Regions from separate parts of the Homo sapiens genome. Here all the other regions are reported to be linked to region 6. The links are microRNA targets in miRTarBase. Many come from high-throughput screens and were not tested one by one. Region 6 holds a microRNA gene; each other region holds the end of a gene's coding sequence. Distances are between the middles of the regions.

Region 1 (3,123 bases), not on the chromosome of region 6:
CCAAATAATTACTCCTTTTGTCCCTCTCCTCCACTTTCTCTCTTATTTCCTCTTATAGGCAGTGAGCTTCTGCAGTTTTGCACACATCACCCAATACAACAATAATGACTACACTTTGTGTCCAGCAATGCTAGACCAACAAGAAAAAGTAGTATTCTTTTCATTTCATGAAGGGGAGGGGAAACTGAGGCCCAAAGGGAGTCAGGTTTGCCCTGTGCCACGTAGCAAGACTGGGCTTGGTGGAAGGGAGCTGGAATCTCAGGAGGCCTAATGGCCAATCTCCAGTCCCAGACCCAAACTTCAGCTACCCTGGCTGCACGCCAGAATTCTTCATGAGACTAGTTTGCAGAAGACACAGATGAACAAGGGGCATTTGCATGTATGATCCTACCCTTGCAAATCCTGTATGGATCTGAACAGGAAAAGGGTTTAGAAAAGAGAAGTGATCATTTACAAATGGGGAATATTGAGGAGAACTGATGGGAAGTTTTGTATAGGACACACCCTGACTGGAAGGAATAAGGAAGGAAAAGATGCCTAAAATAGGGACACTGGGCAAAGGCATTTTGCCACCCTCTAAGAGAAATTCTCCTTTCCCCAATGGGAAATATTATGTCATACTTCAACCCCACTAAGTGCCCTCCAACATCATGGGAGATTCAAGCCACTCGCACCCCCATTTCTTTCTTAGAAAGGCTTCAAAGAAATAAAGTGCTCTTTAGTTAACTGCCCTATCTTGCCCCTTTACTTCAGCCTCACTGGACTTCTTCAATGAACTCTCATATATAACCCCCTTCCAAAAAAAGGAAAGGGGTGGATGAAAGAAAAAAGCAGGAGAGCGGAACGCCAAACCTCTTGGAAATTATGGGTAAATAAAATAATATGCATGAAAAGCAGAAATCACAAAGAAAGTGGCCTTGTCTATTCCATACATTTTGTCCCACAGCTTTTCAGCAAGTGAAATAAGGACAGAAGTAAAATTGTTCTTCCCTCTCGTAACTAAAATTCAACAATCAACATTAAATATACACTGAGTACTTTGCAACAGTAAGTCATGGCCACCCCTTGTAAAAGAGATGAGTTAGCTCCATACCTTTTTCTGGGGGTCCCCCTTGGCCCTCACTGAACTCTTGCCTCTAGATTATTTACTCTCCTCCACCAATCTCCTTCACCCCTCAAAGCCTACTTGCAAAAGCTTCAGCCAGATGATCTGGATTCCAAGAGAAGCATCTGCCTATATATTTAAAGAACTAAAATATTCCCTATCCATTTCTTTGCCAGCTCTTTTTTCCTCTCCCCATCCTCCTACCACCAACACTAAAGGTTTGGCTCTGCTATGAGAGGTGGGAATGAGATTCCCATCATGTCTCAGGGCACGACGAAACTCAGAGTGATAATGGGTTACTTTTTCTTTCTTGAGAATCCCAGAAAATGAGGGAAGAAAAAAGATGGGTGGAAGATTTGGGCAAACAATTAAAGGAGGACAAACTAATATTTGCTGAATGGGAAAAAGGGATGGGAAGATCATTCGTAAATGCAAATAAGAGCCACAATTAATTTTCAGAGAAAATTATGTTTAAAAAGCCAAAATAGTTAAGTTGGAATCATCTCCAAGAAGCTAAAACCATGCTGAATAGTTGTCCTCATGCCCTACCATAGAAGCAGAGTTTGGGCTAAAACCAATCCTATCTTCTTAGAGAACAGGCTCAAAACAAGCCAATGGACACTGATGTAACATGGCAGTGTATACTCAGTTTCACACTGACTTATATTCCATCCCTTCCAATGGTCTCCAATTCCACTAGGATTTTATTGTCACCCTCCTGCACCACCATCATCACTTTCACCCTTGATAGGAAATACAGACTGGCAGAAGTAAGGATTGAAGGTATAAAGGGACAAGGAAGACCTCAGAGGACAGAATTAGCACCATTTTAAAACCTCCAAATTCTTGGCTGCCAAGTAATGTTTCAGACCCTTTCTACTTGGTAATGTGGCCTCTCCAGTCCTGGCCTGAAACTGATGGGAACAAAAAACAATTTAGGGCCAAAAGGTGGGATTAGCATTGAGTTTCTCCAAGAGAAAGGTAAACTGGAGTCTAAAACCTTTCTCTGTAGCTATCATGGCTTCATCTTCCAGCCTGATGATTTTAAATTAGCAAAAGGTGGACATGATCCATGATGTAGGGACAGGAGACTATGGACAGTATATAACCAATAATAATAATAATAATATAAGAATAATAATAAAAGAACTAGGAAAAAACAGGAAGGAAGAGAGAAGAATGAGGCAGGAAAGAGAGGGTTATCTTCGGCAGCATCTTGCAGTGGCTTCTCTGACAGAGAAAGAACAAAAAGAGGATATATGTCTATATACAGACGGGGGGAAGGGACGGGCTGGGGTTGCTCTTTCCCCACTGCCAGATTTCACCACGCGGCCCTGGGCTGATGTCCACACTCTGTGATGCACTAAGTGATCAAGTCCCAGTCGAAGTCATCAGGGATCTCCTCATTGGCACCAGGAGGTGGCACTGATGGCCGAGGGACCATATGGTGTGCTGTTAGAAAGAAAGAAAGAGAGTAAAAGGAGAGTGGATGGGAAGCTGTTCCCTCAATTTACAAGGACAGTGCTCAGCCCCAGATAACACCACGAAGAAGGCCTTGTGAGGCTATCGCCCTTATCAGCTGGAGTTAATTTTGGTTGCAGGTCACCATTTCAGTGAGGTCTCAGGAAATAAACTAGAGTAAATTACATTCCACAGCAATTAAATATTATGCTGCCATTAACAATTATACTTCTGACGCCAGGCACAGTTGCTCACACTTGTTATCCCAGCACTTTGGGAGGCCAAGGCAGGCGGATCACGAGGTCAGGAATTCGAGACCAGCCTGGCCAACATGGAGAAACCCCATCTCTACTAAAAACTCAAAAAATTAGCTGGGTGTGGTCACATGTGCCTGTAGTCCCAGCTACTCGGGAGGCTGAAGCAGGAGAATGGCATGAACCCGGGAGGTCTTGCAGTGAGCTAAGACCGTGCCATTGCACTCCAGCCTGGGCGATAGAGCGAGACTCCGTCTCAAAAAAAAAAAAAAATTGTACTTCTGAAAACATATGATAATGATA
Region 2 (3,123 bases), 530 kb from region 6:
AGTCATCGGGGAATTCATTCTGGAGAGAAACCTTACAAGTGTGATGAATGTGGTAAAGCCTTCAGTCAAACATCACAACTTGCAAGGCATTGGAGAGTTCATACTGGAGAAAAACCTTACAAGTGTAATGAGTGTGGCAAAGCCTTTAGTGTTCATTCAAGCCTAACTATACATCAGACAATACATACTGGACAAAAACCATACAAATGTAATGATTGCGGCAAGGTCTTCAGACACAATTCGTACCTTGCAATTCATCAGAGAATTCACACTGGTGAGAAACCTTATAAGTGTAATGAGTGCGGCAAAGCATTTAGTGTACATTCAAACCTAGCTACCCATCAGGTCATCCATACTGGAGAAAAACCTTACAAATGTAATGAATGTGGCAAGGTCTTCACTCAAAATTCACATCTTGCAAATCATAGAAGAATTCACACTGGAGAAAAACCTTATAGGTGTAATGAGTGTGGGAAAGCCTTCAGTGTTCGTTCAACCCTAACTACCCATATGGCAGTCCATACTGGAGACAAACCTTACAAATGTAACCAATGTGGCAAGGTCTTTACTCAAAATTCAAACCTTGCAAAACATCGAAGAATTCATAGTGGATAGAAACCTTACAAAGGACGCCGGGCGTGGTGGCTCACGCCTGTAATCCCAGCACTTTGGGAGGCCGAGGCGGGGGGATCACCTGAGGTCTCGAGTTCGAGACCAGGCTGGCCAACACGGTGAAACGCTGTCTCTACTAAAAATACAAAAATTAGCTGGGTGTGGTGGTGCACGCCTGTAATCCCAGCTACTCGGGAGGCTGAGGCAGGAGAATCACTTGAACCTGGGAGGCGGAGGTTGCAGTGAGCGAGATCATGCCATTGCACTCCAGCCTGGGCAACAGGAGTGAAACTCCATCTCCAAAAAAAAAAAAAAAAAAAAAGTAACCTTACAAAGGAGTGCGGCCAGTTTTTCAGCCACAAATTCTTTCACAACATCAGAGAATTCATTCTTGAGACAATTCTTACAAATACAGTGACTGTGGCAAACTCCTGATGAGTTTAAGCATTAACAGACATCAGAGTTCAAATCCTGTGAATATACTATGTATGACAGAAGCTTTATCCAGGTCTCAGAGCTCAATACGCATCAAAAGATACATCTTTGATGAAGTCACACAAACGTAACATGCATGCTGAGACTATTACTCCTGGACCACAACTGTAGGTGAGGATTCATAGGAAGAGTAGAACTCAGTCTCTAGTTTCCTCATAACCCTCTGATATTATATACTTCAGCATAATCAGAAGTCCAAATGTGTTAAAACTCATTACATGATACATATCAAAGGTTGTAGGATGTTTGGAAATGGCCAATTACTTTCAGCTTATAAAATGTTTTGTTGAAGTATTTAAGATTTATTGAAAAGGCTACTATTTATAACTTCCAACCAGAACTTTGCAATGTGCTGATTTTATACATGATTATACGCCTAACATGGTGTTGTTCGGGAAAGAATCAAAGGATGGAAGGGCTCACTCACTTCATTAGGTGAGGATTATTTCTCTCCAAGCTCCTGAAGAAAAAAGACTCTGCCTTTTAAAATTAAATATAGTCTGAATTAGAGAGCACTTGGAAAGGGCAGAGGATGATGAACTATGATGTCACTCATCATCCTTATTGCACTGCAGGTGCCCTTCTTCTGACAGAAGAGCACTGTGGGTATGGGAAGAAATTCTCTACTGGCCGGGCACAGTGGCTCACGCCTGTAATGCCAGCACTTTGGGAGGCCAAGGTGGGTGGATCACCTGAGGTCGGGAGTTCGAGACCAGCCTGACCAACATGGAGAAACCCCATCTCTACTAAAAATACAAAATTAGCCAGGCATGGTGGCGCATGCCTGTAATCCCAGCTACTCAGGAGGCTGAGGCAGGAGACTCGCTTGAACCCGGGAGGCAGAGGTTGTGGTGAGCCGAGATCATGCCACTGCACTCCAGTCTGGGCAATAAGAGCGAAACTCTGACTCAAAAAAAGAAAGAAAGAAATTCTCTACCAGTAGACCATGAAATAGAGCCAGGAAGACACTCGGATTTTTATTAGAGGAGAGTAATAGCTTATTAGGGACTGATGTGTGGTACAAATAATGCAGAAAAGTGGAGGCTACCTTCTCCATCAAATGCCAATAGCTGTTGCATAGCAAAGATTGATTTTTTTTTTTTTTTTTGAGATGGAGTCTTGTTCTGTTGCCCAGGCTGGAGTGCAGTGATGCAATCTCAGCTCACCGCAACCTCCGCCTCCTGGGTTTTAGCGATTCTCCTGCCTCAGCCTCCCAAGTAGCTGGGATTACAGACATGCACCACCACGCCTGGCTAATGTTTGTATTTTTAGTAGAGATGGAGTTTCACTATGTTTGCCAGGCTGGTCTCGAACTCCTGACCTCATAATCCGCCCACCTTGGCCTGCCAAAGTGCTGGGATTACGGGCTGGAGCCACCGTGCCCGGCCGGCCGAGCATAAGAAGTTTAATCAAAGTAACCAGAATCCCATGTTTGTTACTAGGATTTACATTAACTGCTGGAATCACATTTTGCTACTATTTAAGAATGCATCATAGATTTAATGTTTTAACTAATAAAATTTGATGTATTTTATAAGTATGAATGAATCATTTCTTGCCAACATAGTTTTATCCTACCTCAGTAGCATACTTCATAACAGATAACAACACTGCACCATTAAGCTATCGAAGGATCTAGAACAATGATTTCCATTGTTGGATCAAACAACATATAATTTTCAGAAACTAAGTGTATTTTGGTTTTTTTGTTTGTTTGTTTGAGATGGAGTTTCATTCTGTCACCCAGGCTGGAGTGCAGTGGCGTGATCTCGGCTCACTGCAACCTCTGTCTCCCGGGTTCAAGCAATTCTCCTGCCTCAGCCTCCCAAGTAGCTGGGATTATAGGTGCCCGTTACCACACCCGGCTAGTTTTTGTATTTTTAGTAGAGACAGGGTTTCACTATGTTGGCCAGGCTGGTCTCGAACTCCTGACCTCAAGTGATCCACCTGCCTTGGCCCCCCCAAAGCTCTGGGATTACAGGTGTGAGCCACCATGCCCAGCCCAGAAACTAATTG
Region 3 (3,104 bases), not on the chromosome of region 6:
ACTTTGTCTTTTGGTGGACCTGGGTGCTGGGTGTGGTCATTACTATTGGAGTGTCATTGCTCTCACATCAGTGCAAAGGACTATACATACAAAAACATATTTACATCTATCTCTATAGACTGAAATACACGAGTTCACACTGATATCTCCAATTCGACACCACAGGGTTTATTCTAGTTTTCTCCCTTTCCATATTTGTGGGAGCCAGGTTTTTATGAGACAATTTTATTGGGAGATAATTCTGTGTCTCTTGTGGGTGTCTTAATTGTCAGATTTTGTACGCTTTGACCACCATTTAAATTTTTTAAATGCAACAAAATATCAATTTTGTTGATACTTTGTGGGCTGAGATGTTGACAGATTTTGTTCCAGACTATTTCAAGGATTTTTTTTTTCTTGAGATGGAGTTTCACTCTTGTTGCCCAGGCTGGAGTGCAACGGCGTGATCTTGGCTCACCACAACCTCCGCCTCCTGGGTTCAAGCGATTCTCCTGCCTCAGCCTCCCGAGTAGCTGGATTACAGGCTCGCGCCACCACGCTTGGCTAATTTTTGTATTTTTAGTAGAGACGGGATTTCTCCATGTTGGTCAGGCTGGTCTGGAACTCCCAACCTCAGGTGATCCGCCTGCCTCAGCCTCCCAAAGTGCTAGGATTATAGGTGTGCCACTGTGCCCAGGTATTTCAAGGATTTTTGTACAGCAAATGGCCTTAGAAGACAGAGATAGTATCTCCCTAAGATTGTGGTTCCTTAGCCGTCATGCAAACCTGCAGTGTGTAACACTTTCCTGGGCCTGCCAGTATTGCCCTGTGGGACTTGGAGGGCAAGGGAGACCAAGGCTAACACACTGCCTGCTGTGCCCTGAGCAGTAGTCTCTGCCCAAGTAATCCTGTGTTTTCTGCCAGCATTCATGAAGCTGGCTCCCTAACACAAGAAGTTGTTGAAAGTTCTACTCAGCTTCTTAGCTGCCTCTTCCAGAATCAGCAGGTGCCCTTATGGGAAAAGTAGCTCTAAGTCCCAGGCTCACTTCTCTTGAGTTTCCTTCGTGTCCTGAATTTTGGTTCTATATTGCCAGCTGATGCTTTCAGATAGATGCTGTTTATATTTTGCACAGCTTTTCTAGTTGTTCTCTATGTTCAGTGGGTCCAAATTTCCTGGTCTACCATTAGTGAAAGTGGCAGATGGTGAAGGCAATTTTCAACTCAAAGGTTTCAAGGCCACCAAAAAGAGAAATACACATGTACTGAGAAAGAAAAGTCAAGACCTGTAAGAAGTGTCACAGGTTTCTTAGGTCACACATACAAAACTGACCCATATATTCCTGAAAATGAACAGACTGTCTAGTGCCCCAGACCCCTGCTATGGATACCCTATTTGACCTTCAGGCTTAGTTCCAAAGCCAGCTATATCTTTTATAAAAGACTTTCCACCCTATCTCCTTCACCTCCTCACCCAGCCAAAGGAAACCTTCTTTCCTCTGTTCTCCCACAGGACTTTATACCTCTGTTAGGGCACTTCTCCATCTCTGCCACGTTATAGCTGGCTGACCACCCAAATTCATAATTAGCAACTTGAGGACCCAATCATGTCTTAACCATCTTTGCATTTTTCAGTATGTCTTGAATAGAGAATTTATGAAAATAAATGTTTGCATAAGCTGATAAAGGAGATGAAGAAAAACACACAGAAGGAGAAAACCAAGGGTGTGGGATCAGAAAATCCAAGAGAAGAGAGTGTTTCTGGAGAATGAAGCAATAACTGAATGCTGCTGAGAAGTCAGAATGATGAAGCCTGAAAAGTTTCCCCTAAATGTGGCAGCATAAAGGATTCAGGAGAACACTGACTTTTATTGAGGAAGACAGGTCAAATGTTGTTTGGAGTCACTGCATTTTTTAGGCAAGTCAATTAGACAAGCTTCTTTTTTTTTTTTTTTGAGACAGAATGTCGCCCAGGCTGGAGTGCAATGGCACGATCTCGGCTCACTGCACCCTCTGCCTCCCAGGTTCAAGCAATTCTCCTGCCTCAGCCTCTGAGTAGCTGGGATTACAGGCATGCACCACCATGCCTGGCTAATTGTTGTATTTTTAGTAGAGATGGGGTTTCACCATGTTGGTCAGGCTGGTCTCGAATTCCTGACCTTGTGATCCGCCTGCCTCGGCCTCCCAAAGTGCTGGGATTATAGGCGTGAGCCACCGTGCCCGGCCTGGCAAGCTTCTTCTTGAAGAAGGATGAACAGTTCTCAGCAAAGAGGAGTCATCATTCTTCTGAACCACCATAAACATTCCAGAGAAGAGGTAGATAGAAGGCTAGATCCTGGAGGATGTGCTGTGGTGAGCTAGGCCCTCAGGCAGGTGGTGGTGCCCAGCAGAAATGGCACTGTAAGCCAGGCTTCCCTGGTCCTAGGAGAATGTTTTAGACTAGATGTCTAGGAGAAGTCTGGGCACTACCACTGGTCTTCATAGACCTGCATCAGGCTGGTCCTAGGCCTCCTGTTCCAGCTACATAGTGGACACCTCCCTCTGGGCTATAGCACACAGGGCCACAGCGCAACTGGGGCTCTTCCTCCTCATACCAGCGCTGTTCACTGAAGTCAGGGAAGAAGGCTGCAATCTCTCTGCTGGCTGAAACCACAGAGTCTGTAAGGGGAGATAAGACAGAGAAGGGGTTCTCACATGGTAGAAGCAAGAGGCAGTCATAATCAGGTTCAGAATCCTGAGCCTCTACTCTGCCTGCCCCTTCAGTCCTGGGGCATGTAAAGAAAGTCCACAGGCCACATCTGCCAACATGGCTACAAAGACCAGAAACACAAATGGAAGAAAGCTCACTGGAGGGACCTGGCTGTCAACTCTACCACACAGCCTGCCCGCTAACCCCAAAATATCCTATGGCTATGGACAGGGGACTCACCCGAACCATGGGTGGTGTTGCGGGTGTCAGTGAGGCCGAAACTCCCACGGATAGAATCTGGGGCCACATGGCGTGCTCGGAACACTCTGGTGGGTCCCATGAGCGTCCTCCAGAGCTGGATGGCATCCTTGTGGGCAAGGATGTAGGCTCGGATTGGCCCGCTGTGAACAAAACAAGCACATGTAAAGAACCTGGCCAT
Region 4 (3,000 bases), not on the chromosome of region 6:
AACCCTGGCCTGTTTTCCTTCCTGATTTACCAGAGCAGCCTGGGAGCATCCTGGGCCCCGAATGTGCCTCCTGCAAAAGAGTATTTTCTCCCTACTTCAAAAAGGAGCCGGTGTACCAGCTGCCCTGCGGCCACCTCCTGTGCCGACCCTGCCTGGGTGAGAAGCAACGCTCCCTGCCCATGACGTGCACAGCCTGCCAGCGGCCGGTTGCTAGCCAAGACGTGCTGCGGGTCCACTTCTGAGTGACTGACCTCCACTGGAGGAGACCCATTGCTGGGAGGAGCTGAGGGGGAACAGGAGCAGGGCCACAGCACCCCTGAGGTCTGGCCAGGCCCCAGGCACAGAGCTGCCTGCTCCCTCCCGGGGCTCTTCTTCATCACCTCACGGTATAGCACATTGCTTCTGCGCTGGTGGCAATAGGGCAACAAAGCCATAGGCCAGAGGGCGGGGGGATGTCCCTGCCTCCCTGCCACCCCCCCTGCCTGAGCCCAGGACCCACTGGAGCCAGCCCCACCCTAGGCAGGAAGACCCCTGCTGAGGGCCCCCCCGTGCAGTCCGCATACCCCCCTGTCCAGCAGGGCACTGTGGGTGGCTCACCCTAGATTGTGGCCCAGATCTCAGGAGTCTCTGCCTTCAGGGTCATCCAAAAGTGGACCTTGGGAGCAGTGGGGGTGTCTGTGGAGTGCATGACTCAGCCCCCCGACTCGCAGCCTTAATAAAGCGATGGTTGACGTCTGCTGTGGGTTTCCTCCTGGTGGAGTGCCTGTCTGTGTCACACACTCCTGTCGCCCACCTGCACCCACACAAGTGGAGCTCACAGGGTAGCTGTGTGCAGTCACTGCAGCTTGCCAGGCTGTCATTCCTGTCGATGACCTGAAAGGACACAAACTGGAATTTTCAGGTCTGTCCCCTGCATGGGGACTCAGAACCCAGGTTTGCAGGTGGGCATACGTGGTGGGAGGGTGGAGGGCTCCCTCTGGCCAGTGCCAGCTGTGCTCAGCTGGCTTCAGAAACTGCTCCCTGAGGGGGAGCGCAGCGTTTCCTCATGCAGTTGGTTTCAGGAAAAATACTTGTTTATAGGCTGCATCCTTTTTTCAGCCCAACATTTAGCTTTATGGAGTGCCAAAGGGAAAATATATCCATATCCCTACAACTTGGTACTCTATCAGATTCCAGCCACTAGAAGAACCTCAGTGAGAAAACACACCCGCCTTTCCCTGTTCCCTTCTAAGCACGTTTGGGAAGGAACAGCCTAAAGATGCTTTGTAAAGCTGTATTTTACCCTTGAGCTTAGCCGCGGGTCCCTGTGAACCGGCACATTCCTTTCCTTTAGGCCGTCCAGAGCTCTAGTCCACACCCAATACTTTAGAGATCTGGGTTTGGGGTTAGTTGCTTTTTTTTTTTTTTTTTTAATTGAGACAGGGTTGGTCTCTGTTGCCCAAGCTTGAGGGCAGTGGTGCAATCATAACTCATTGCAGCCTCGAACTCCTGGGCTTAAGGGATCCTTCTACCTCAGCCTCCCAGGTAGCAGGAACTATAGGCATGTGCCACCATGCCCAGCTAATTTTTTTATTTTTTGTAGAGACAAGGTCTTGCTATGTTGTCCAGACTGGTCTCAAACTCCTGGGCTCAAGCGATCCTCCCAAAGTGCTTGGATTGCAGGCATGAGCCACTTCGCCTAGCCAAGCCTGCATTTTTTTGAGTTCCTACATCATTTGTCCACAAAGATGGCTTCAGAGAGGTGGTCACATGCTTTGCTCTGCTTCCTCTTGGCACTGACCTTGATGCAGCCTTCACATGAGATTTGAGGGTCCGCATGGATGGCCTGTGCCGCCCTCGCTGGCGAGGCTCCTGTGTGCCCCTGGCTTTCTGGGTCTGTGCCTCTCCAGAATCTTGTCTTACCCTCCGGTGTGCTTGTGTTCTTAGAAAAGCCCCAGCATGGCCGGGCATGGTGGCTCATGCCTATTATCCCAGCACTTTGGGAGGCCAAGGTGGGTGGATCACTTGAGGTCAAGAGTTCGAGACCAGCCTGGCCAACATGGCAAAACCCCATCTCTACTAAAAATACAAAAATTAGCTGGGCATGGTGGTGTGTGCCTGTAATGCCAGCTACTCAGGAGGCTGAGGCATGAGAATCGCTTGAACCGGGGAGGCAGAGGTTGCAGTGAGCCGAGATCTCACCACTGTACTCCAGCCTGGGCGACGGAGTGAGACTCCCTCTCAAAAAAAGAAAAAAGCCCCAGCATGTAGCAAAAGCATTTCTTGGTGAGTGTGGGGGCTGGTGATTCCCACCTTCACCCTGTCATGGTCTCAGGGAACAGCCTGCTTCCCACCAGCAGCTTGACACCCACAGTGTGCTCTGGCTGCTGGGAGCCCATCTCTCGGAGAAACCCTGTCCACCCAACCCCGAGAGCCCTAGCGTGCAGTCAGCGTCAGCACGGCGCTCCCAGATGAGGGCCGGACTGCCTCCCCTTAAGCAGCTGTGTTGGAGGTACTGCCCAGACCGCTGCAGGTCCCTGGGGATCTGCATTTCTAACAGGCTCCTGCCCCCAAGACTGCTCTGGTGGAAAATCCAGCCTGGGAGCCCCTGGAGTGGCAGGCCCTGTCCTGGGTACAGGTGGAGCCACCCCCAGGAGTTGCGTGTGTTTTTCTTAATTGAAAGACTTCCCCCAAAAGGAAGTGGTCTTTTCACTACCCTTGCCAGAAACATGCTAGGCACCACTGGGCTCTGTTTCTGTCCCCTAGAAAATGGGAATAAAATTTCTTTTGCTGTCACCTGGCTCTGAAGGCAGTTTATTTCTCACTAGAGCCTGGACCCAGGCACAGAACAGCTGTAAACACGCAGAGTTTAAGTCCACGGACGGAGAAGACTCAGGACCTCAGAGCCTTGCTGTGGCCCTGCTGCCCTCCAGAGATCTTCCACCCCCTCCATGACCACAGGGTCTGTGGGCACATGTCTCTTCCCCTTCCTGTGACATTGACTCGGCCCTCTGAACGCAG
Region 5 (3,123 bases), not on the chromosome of region 6:
GATCTCGGCTCACTGCAGCTTCAGCCTCCTGGGCTCAGGGGATCCTCCTACTTCAGCCTCCTGAGTAGCTGGGACTATAGGGGAGTGCCACCACACCTGGCTGATTTTTGTATTTTTTGTAGAAATGTGGTTTCACCATGTTTCCCAGGCTGGTCTTGAACTCCTGGGCTCAAGCGATTCCAAAGTGCTGGGATTACAGGCATGAGCCACCATGCTCAGGATGGTCATTGTGTTTTCCGTGGGATAAACGCATTGGCATTAGGGGAAGGCTTAGATCGACAACACACCCGCACAAACACATCAGCTGTCATCTCTTTACCCTCAGCATTTCTCTGGAATGTCTAAGTTAAGCTTTAAGACGTTGGTCAGATCTTAGAGAACTGGCAGAAAGGAATTTCAATGAAACATTGGGTCAGATTGCAAATGAAAAAGCTTGAAATGTGGGGATGGCCACGTTTTAATAGGTTTTTGGTTTTTGTTTTTACATGAAAGGATTCTCATCGCTTTGGAAGGCACCTGAAAGAAGCAATGACTGACATCATCACTTTGTTTGGTCTCAGTTCTAATTCCAAAAAGTAATTCCACTGGAGCTGCTGGGAAGGAAAACGAGCTCTTCTGATGCAAACCAAATGAAAAATAGGCATTAATCCTGACCTTAGCTCGGGATGAAACACTGCTCTTAAAAAAACTCAGTTTTCCTTCCAGAAAATGTGGGTGTTTTTTTTTCCTAGAACAGTATCTCTCCCCTGTGAAGCATAACCCCACTACTTCCAGACTTGCCCTCCCTTGGGGGACATCTGATAAAGTCTCCCCTGATGTCTCCGCATCGGCTTGGATTTATTAAGGGATGCAAATCTTGTTGAGTTAATGAAGGAATTAGTAGGGTTGTGGCTTCACACACAGTGGAATGGAAATGGTGTGCTTTCTCAGTGGCAACCGAAGGCCTAGTGCTTAAGGGCATTTAGCATCATCCAAGCAGGGTAAACTTTTGTTTTGTTAAAAGAAAAATGTGTTATTCAAGTTGGTGTCCCCAGTTGTAGCTAACACATCTGGAATGCACTAACCAAAATGCTGTGCTTTGGAGACCTGCTTTTGTCACCGTGGGTAACCGTTCCCGTCTGGTCCAGTAGCCTGTGTTTGCCTCTCCACATTTGAAGCAAGCAGGATGCAAGGTCTTCAGTTTTACTGACCTTGTATGTCTTCAAGTCTTCACAACCCAGTGCCTTAAAAATGAAAGGCCCTAAATGTAAGGGAGATGGAGAGAAAGATTTATTTTGTAGAGTCTTTGGGTGGAATTGTGGGTATACTGTTCCCTTCACAATTGACTGAGTATGGATAACCGTACATAAGCATTTGCTACACCCCACCAGCCCCCTCCCCCTCAGAAACACCAGTTCCTTCCCAAGGGCAGCTGTGCCAGACTCCCCTCCCGGGACTGCCTTCTTGTCATCATAAGCAACAAAAGAAATAACAGGCACATGTCATAAAAGGGGAGCAAGGGCCGTGATGGTCAGATAATTCACTCAAGAATAAAACATGACACGTGCCTCAGGAGGATCTCTTTCCCAAAGTGACAGCAAGGAGGGCAGGGCATCGGCCACCAAGCGGGGACTAGCAAGTGAGGAAGGGGAGGGCAGCCCACCGTGGTGAGGAGAGAGTGGCTCCACGACCCCAAGGGATGGCCTTCTCCTCCCACCCGGTGAGGGGAAAGACTCACCAGAGGGTGATGGAGACAGTATGCCGGCTCACCTTGGTGACCAGCCAAGATGTCTCAAGTGACAGTGCTAGGTGTTCACCCAGCCTGTCCTTCAGATAGGAGTGCCTTCACGAAAGCGTCTCATGGACCACAAAGCAATTATGCACTGAGTCATCTTCAGTATTTAATGCAAAAATGAAGCATCATGGAATGAAATTCCCACTGTCTGTCATGACAAGCTTAGCTGTCCATTGTTTTAAATTGTGTATTTATTTTTTTGACCACTTGGTTCTAGTTGGGCCTGACTCCTTCAGAGTGCTGCACCCCGATAGTACAACAGCGATGGCTGAACTGTTGGAGTCGATGGAAGGTGCTTGCCGGAGAACACGTGCCTTTTTTTTTTTTTTTTTTTTTGAGATGGAGTTTCACTCTTGTTGCCCAGGCTGGAGTGCAGTGGTGCAATCTCGGCTCACTGCAGCATCTGCCTTGCAGGTTCAAGCGATTCTCCTGTCTCAGCCTCCCAAGTAGCTGGGATTACACGCCCAACACCATGCCCTGCTAATTTTTGTATTTTTAGTAGAGACGGGGTTTCATCATATTGGTCAGGCTGGTCTCGAACTCCTGACCTCAGGTGATCCACCTGCCTCAGCCTCCCAAAGTGCTGGGATTACAGGCATGAGCCACCATGCGCGGCCCACATGCATGTTTTATGTATGTATACTTCATGATGTAAAAATCCCACCTTTATGGGCCAAAGATTTTTTTTCTCCTGAAAGCAAGAAAAAATGAAAACAAAAGACAAAAAAAAAAAAAAAAGCGTCCAGGCGCGGTGGCTCATGCGTGTAATCCCAGCACTTTGGGAGGCCAAGGCGGGCGGATCACGAGGTCAGGAGATGGAGACCATCCTGGCTAACACGGTGAAACCCCGTCTCTACTAAAAATTCAAAAAATGAGCCGGGCGTGGTGGCGGGCGCCTGTAGTCCCAGCTACTCAGGAGGCTGAGGCAGGAGAATGGCGTGAACCCGGGAGGCGGAGCTTGCAGTGAGCCGAGATCGCTCCACTGCACTCCAGCCTGGGCGACAGAGCGAGACTCCGTCTAAAAAAAAAAGCAAAAACAAACCAACAACAAAAGCCCCTGACTGTCCGTCAAGCAGGCAGCGGGGATGTAGCTCTCTCTGCCCTGGGCAAGAATAGCACTTCCCGTTAAAAGCCAGCAGCCGGCGTCAGTCCCTATCAGAGCCAGCTAGATCATGCACTGTTGACCACTGAGCAATCTGTGTTACACTAGAGTTCACAGGGCATTTTGAGTGTAGACGTGAGTGCTTAAACATATTTGGGTTTCTCTCTCAGGTTTTAAATGTTTCAAATGTAATTGTTGCTCATCAGTGCAGTTATCAATGCAATTTTATATTCCTTGAGGGGAGAAA
Region 6 (3,123 bases):
TGTATTTTTAATAGAGACAGGGTTTTGCCATGTTGGCCAGGTTGGTCTGGAACTCCTGACCTCAGTTGGTCCACCTGCCTCAGCCTCACAAAGTGCTGTGAATACAGGTGTGAGCCAACACGCCCGGCTATCAACAACTTTTCCTACGTAGAAATTATTCGGGCACTGGTTTATAGAACCTCACGTGGGTTCACGTAGAATTGAAGGGGACCTCAGCGTCCCTTGCAGATGGGATGTGCAATGTATTTGAGATGTACTCGAACATTGCTGTTGAGGTGTGGGCATCTTTTGCTTTTTCCTAATTTTAAATATGGGACTAGTCTGGGTATGGTGACTTCCACCAGTAATTCTAGCACTTTGGGAGGCTGAGACAGGAGGATCACCTGAGGTCAGTTGTTCGAGACCAGTCTGGCCAGCATGGTGAAACCCCGTCTCTACTAAAAATACAAAAATTAGCCGGGTGTGGTGGCACTCACCTGTAATCCCAGCTACTCGGGAGGCTGAGGCAGGAGAATCACATGAATCTGGGAGGCGGAGGTTACAGCGAGCAGAGATCACACCGTTACACTCCTGCCTGGGCAACAGTGTGAGACTCTGTCTCTAAATAAATAAATAAATAAAAATAAAAATAATTAGGTGAATATGGGACCAGCATGGACTTGGGTGTCGCCTTTGTGCAGTGGCCAGGATATTCTATGTCATTTAAATTTTTTTATGTGTACTTCCAAAGCAAGCAGTTATGTATAGGAATTATTCTTCCTATAAGCATGCAATATTTGGAACTTTCTTTGAGACAGGGTCTCAAAAATACATGATGTATATTTCATTTTATATTCTTATATATTATGTACACACAAAATACTCTTCTAAACACAGAGAATACTCCGATATCACCTAGGGTGTGTGTGCGTGTGCGTGTGTGTGCGTGTGTGTGTGGTTCTTTTCTGAGACAATATCTGCCTCTGTCACCCAAGATGGAGTGTGGTGGTGCAATCTCGGCTTACTGCAACCTCCACCTCCCACCTAAGCCTGCTGAATTAGTCTCTACAGGCATGCACCACCACACCTGGCTAACTTCTGTAATTTTTGTACACATGGGGTCTCGCCATGTTGCCGGGGCTGGTCTCGAGCTCCTGAGGCAGGTGATCCTCCTGCCTGGGCCTCCTAAAGTTCGAGGAGTTAGAGGTCTGAGCCACTGGGCCCCACTTGTACTTGTGTATTTCTGCTCAAATTTTATTGAGTAGTTTTTACATCCTAGCCTGTGATCTACTCTGGAGAGTGTTTGTGCATATGACAGTGTATATTCTTCAACATCGTAGACTCCATTTTGGATGCTCCCTTCGTGACTGTGGGTCCTGTACTGGAACTCGAGTGAACACTTGGCTTAAAATCCATTGCTGTTCTCCAGAAATCCTGCCCAATTTTCTCGGTTAAAGGTACGTGTAGTAGGCATTGCTTTTTCTCTTTGGGGACAAAACTCAGGAGGATTGCCCCTTGATGAACAAGGCTAACCTGCTGATTCTTTGAAGCAAGGAACTGGAGATGGTCCTTATAGAGTTTTATATTCTGGATTCCATAAAACATGCATACAGGGTCAATAAATGCATCTTTATTTTTGTGTCTATTTTAACTTGGTCAAAGAAAATTCCAGGAAAAAATCCACGGCATCAGAGCAAGAAGATGTCAGGCTGTGACCCTCTTGAGGGAAGCACTTTCTGTTGTCTGAAAGAAGAGAAAGTGCTTCCTTTTAGAGGCTTACTGTCTGAGAAAAGCAACGTTGTAGTTGATGCTGATCTTTGTAATATCTTTGCAGAGCACGCTTATAATCAGACTTGGATGATGTTGGGGTTTTGTTTTTCTTTTGTTTTTTTATCTAAGACTGGGTCTCTGTTGCCCAGGCTGAAGTGCAGTGGCACAATCTTGGCTCACCACAACCTCCGCCTCCCGGGTTCAAGTGATTCTTCTGCCTCAGCCTCCCAAGTAGCTGGGATTATAGGACTGCGCCACCATGCCTGGCTAATTTTGTATTTTTAGTAGAGACAGGGTTTCTTTAGGAGCTTTTAAGGCCTCCCTTGTAGTCTATCCTGGAGGATGTTTGTGTGTGCAACAATGTATATTCTTCAACATGGTAGATTCCATTTTGACTGCTCTAATCAGGACTGTGTGTCCCTGTGCTGGAAATCAAGTGAACACTTGGCTGAAAATCCACTGCTGTTCTCTAGAAATCCAGCCCAATTCTCTTGGTTAAATATAAGGTATGCATAGTAGGCATTGCTTTTTCTTTCTGGACACAAAACTCAGGAGGATTTCCCCTTGATGAACAAGGCTAACCTGCTGAGCCTTTGTAGGAAGGAACGGGAGATGGTCTTTTTAGGGGTCTATGTTCTGGATTCCAGAAAACATGCAAACAGAGCCAATAAATAGGTCTTTATTTTTGTCTCTATTTTAACCTGGTCAAGGAAAATTTCTACAAAAAACCCAGGGTGCTGGAGCAAGAAGATCCCATGCTGTGACCCTCTAGAGGGAAGCGCTTTCTGTTGTCTGAAAGAAAAGAAAGTGCATCCTTTTAGAGGTTTACTGTTTGAGGAAAGCAACAGTGAAGTTGATGCTGATCTTGGTAATACATTTGCAGAGCATGCTTATCATCAGACTTGGATGATGGTGGGATTCTGTTTTTATTTTGTTTTTTTTTCTAAGACAGAGTCTCTCTTGCCCAGGCTGGAGTAGGGTAGCACTTCCAACGTAGATCTTTTAGGCTCAAACGGTCCTCTTTTTTTTTTTTTTTTTTTTGAGGCGGAGTCTTGCTCTGTGACCCAGACGAGAGTGCAATGGCGCGATCTTGTGTGCAAGCTCACCTCCTGAGTTCAAGCAATTCTTCTGCCCCAGCCTCCCAAGTAGCTGGGACTACAGGTGCCTGCCACCACTTCCAGCTAATTTTTGTATTTTTAGTAGAGACAGGGTTTCACCACGTTGGCCAGGCTGGTCTCAAACTACTGACCTCAAGATCCACCCACCTCAGCCTCCCAAAGTGCTGGGATTACAGGCGTGGGCCATTGTGCCCAGCGGTCCTCTTTTTTGAGATGGAGTCTTGCTCTGTGACCCAGGCTGGAGTGCAGTGGCAGG

What was found. Region 6 holds the annotated microRNA hsa-miR-526b-3p (GAAAGUGCUUCCUUUUAGAGGC, at 1,734-1,755, shown strand). A microRNA usually pairs through its seed, bases 2 to 8, with sites in the 3' UTR of a target mRNA and lowers its output. Matches are read on the target gene's strand: a 7mer-m8 pairs with bases 2 to 8, a 7mer-A1 pairs with bases 2 to 7 and ends in A, and an 8mer does both.
Region 1: miRTarBase lists FOXJ2 as a target of hsa-miR-526b-3p. Seed matches in the 3' UTR shown: 8mer at 708-715.
Region 2: miRTarBase lists ZNF665 as a target of hsa-miR-526b-3p. Seed matches in the 3' UTR shown: 7mer-m8 at 664-670 and 7mer-m8 at 1,769-1,775.
Region 3: miRTarBase lists NME6 as a target of hsa-miR-526b-3p. Seed matches in the 3' UTR shown: 7mer-m8 at 2,163-2,169 and 7mer-m8 at 641-647.
Region 4: the mRNA of UBOX5 is a reported target of hsa-miR-526b-3p. Seed matches in the 3' UTR shown: 7mer-m8 at 1,974-1,980.
Region 5: miRTarBase lists CPT1A as a target of hsa-miR-526b-3p. Seed matches in the 3' UTR shown: 7mer-m8 at 2,548-2,554.

Annotation. Positions count from the first base shown.
Region 1 is chr12:8,052,196-8,055,318 of GRCh38, reverse strand. It overlaps FOXJ2 (forkhead box J2), which reads right to left. Exons shown (of 11, transcript NM_018416.3): 11 at 1-2,557. The coding sequence ends at 2,469. Among named protein-coding and RNA genes, the nearest start is that of C3AR1, 13 kb to the left of the region's middle.
Region 2 is chr19:53,161,945-53,165,067 of GRCh38, reverse strand. It overlaps ZNF665 (zinc finger protein 665), which reads left to right. Exons shown (of 4, transcript NM_024733.5): 4 at 1-2,644. The coding sequence ends at 615. Among named protein-coding and RNA genes, the nearest start is that of ZNF347, 4.5 kb to the right of the region's middle.
Region 3 is chr3:48,292,170-48,295,273 of GRCh38, forward strand. NME6 (NME/NM23 nucleoside diphosphate kinase 6) reads right to left here. Exons shown (of 6, transcript NM_001308426.2): 5 at 2,906-3,066; 6 at 148-2,634. The coding sequence ends at 2,468. Among named protein-coding and RNA genes, the nearest start is that of NME6, 7.6 kb to the right of the region's middle.
Region 4 is chr20:3,107,348-3,110,347 of GRCh38, reverse strand. It overlaps UBOX5 (U-box domain containing 5), which reads left to right. Exons shown (of 5, transcript NM_014948.4): 5 at 34-2,775. The coding sequence ends at 242. UBOX5-AS1 (UBOX5 antisense RNA 1) reads right to left here. Exons shown (of 7, transcript NR_038395.1): 1 at 2,777-3,000; 2 at 598-873; 3 at 1-70. Among named protein-coding and RNA genes, the nearest start is that of UBOX5-AS1, 1.9 kb to the right of the region's middle.
Region 5 is chr11:68,755,100-68,758,222 of GRCh38, reverse strand. CPT1A (carnitine palmitoyltransferase 1A) reads left to right here. Exons shown (of 19, transcript NM_001876.4): 19 at 493-3,123. The coding sequence ends at 579. Among named protein-coding and RNA genes, the nearest start is that of TESMIN, 5.1 kb to the right of the region's middle.
Region 6 is chr19:53,692,710-53,695,832 of GRCh38, forward strand. It overlaps MIR526B (microRNA 526b), which reads left to right and starts at 1,684; the gene lies at 1,684-1,766. It overlaps MIR519B (microRNA 519b), which reads left to right and starts at 2,504; the gene lies at 2,504-2,584. It overlaps LOC107985342 (a long non-coding RNA gene), which reads left to right. Exons shown (of 3, transcript XR_007067332.1): 3 at 1,320-1,913.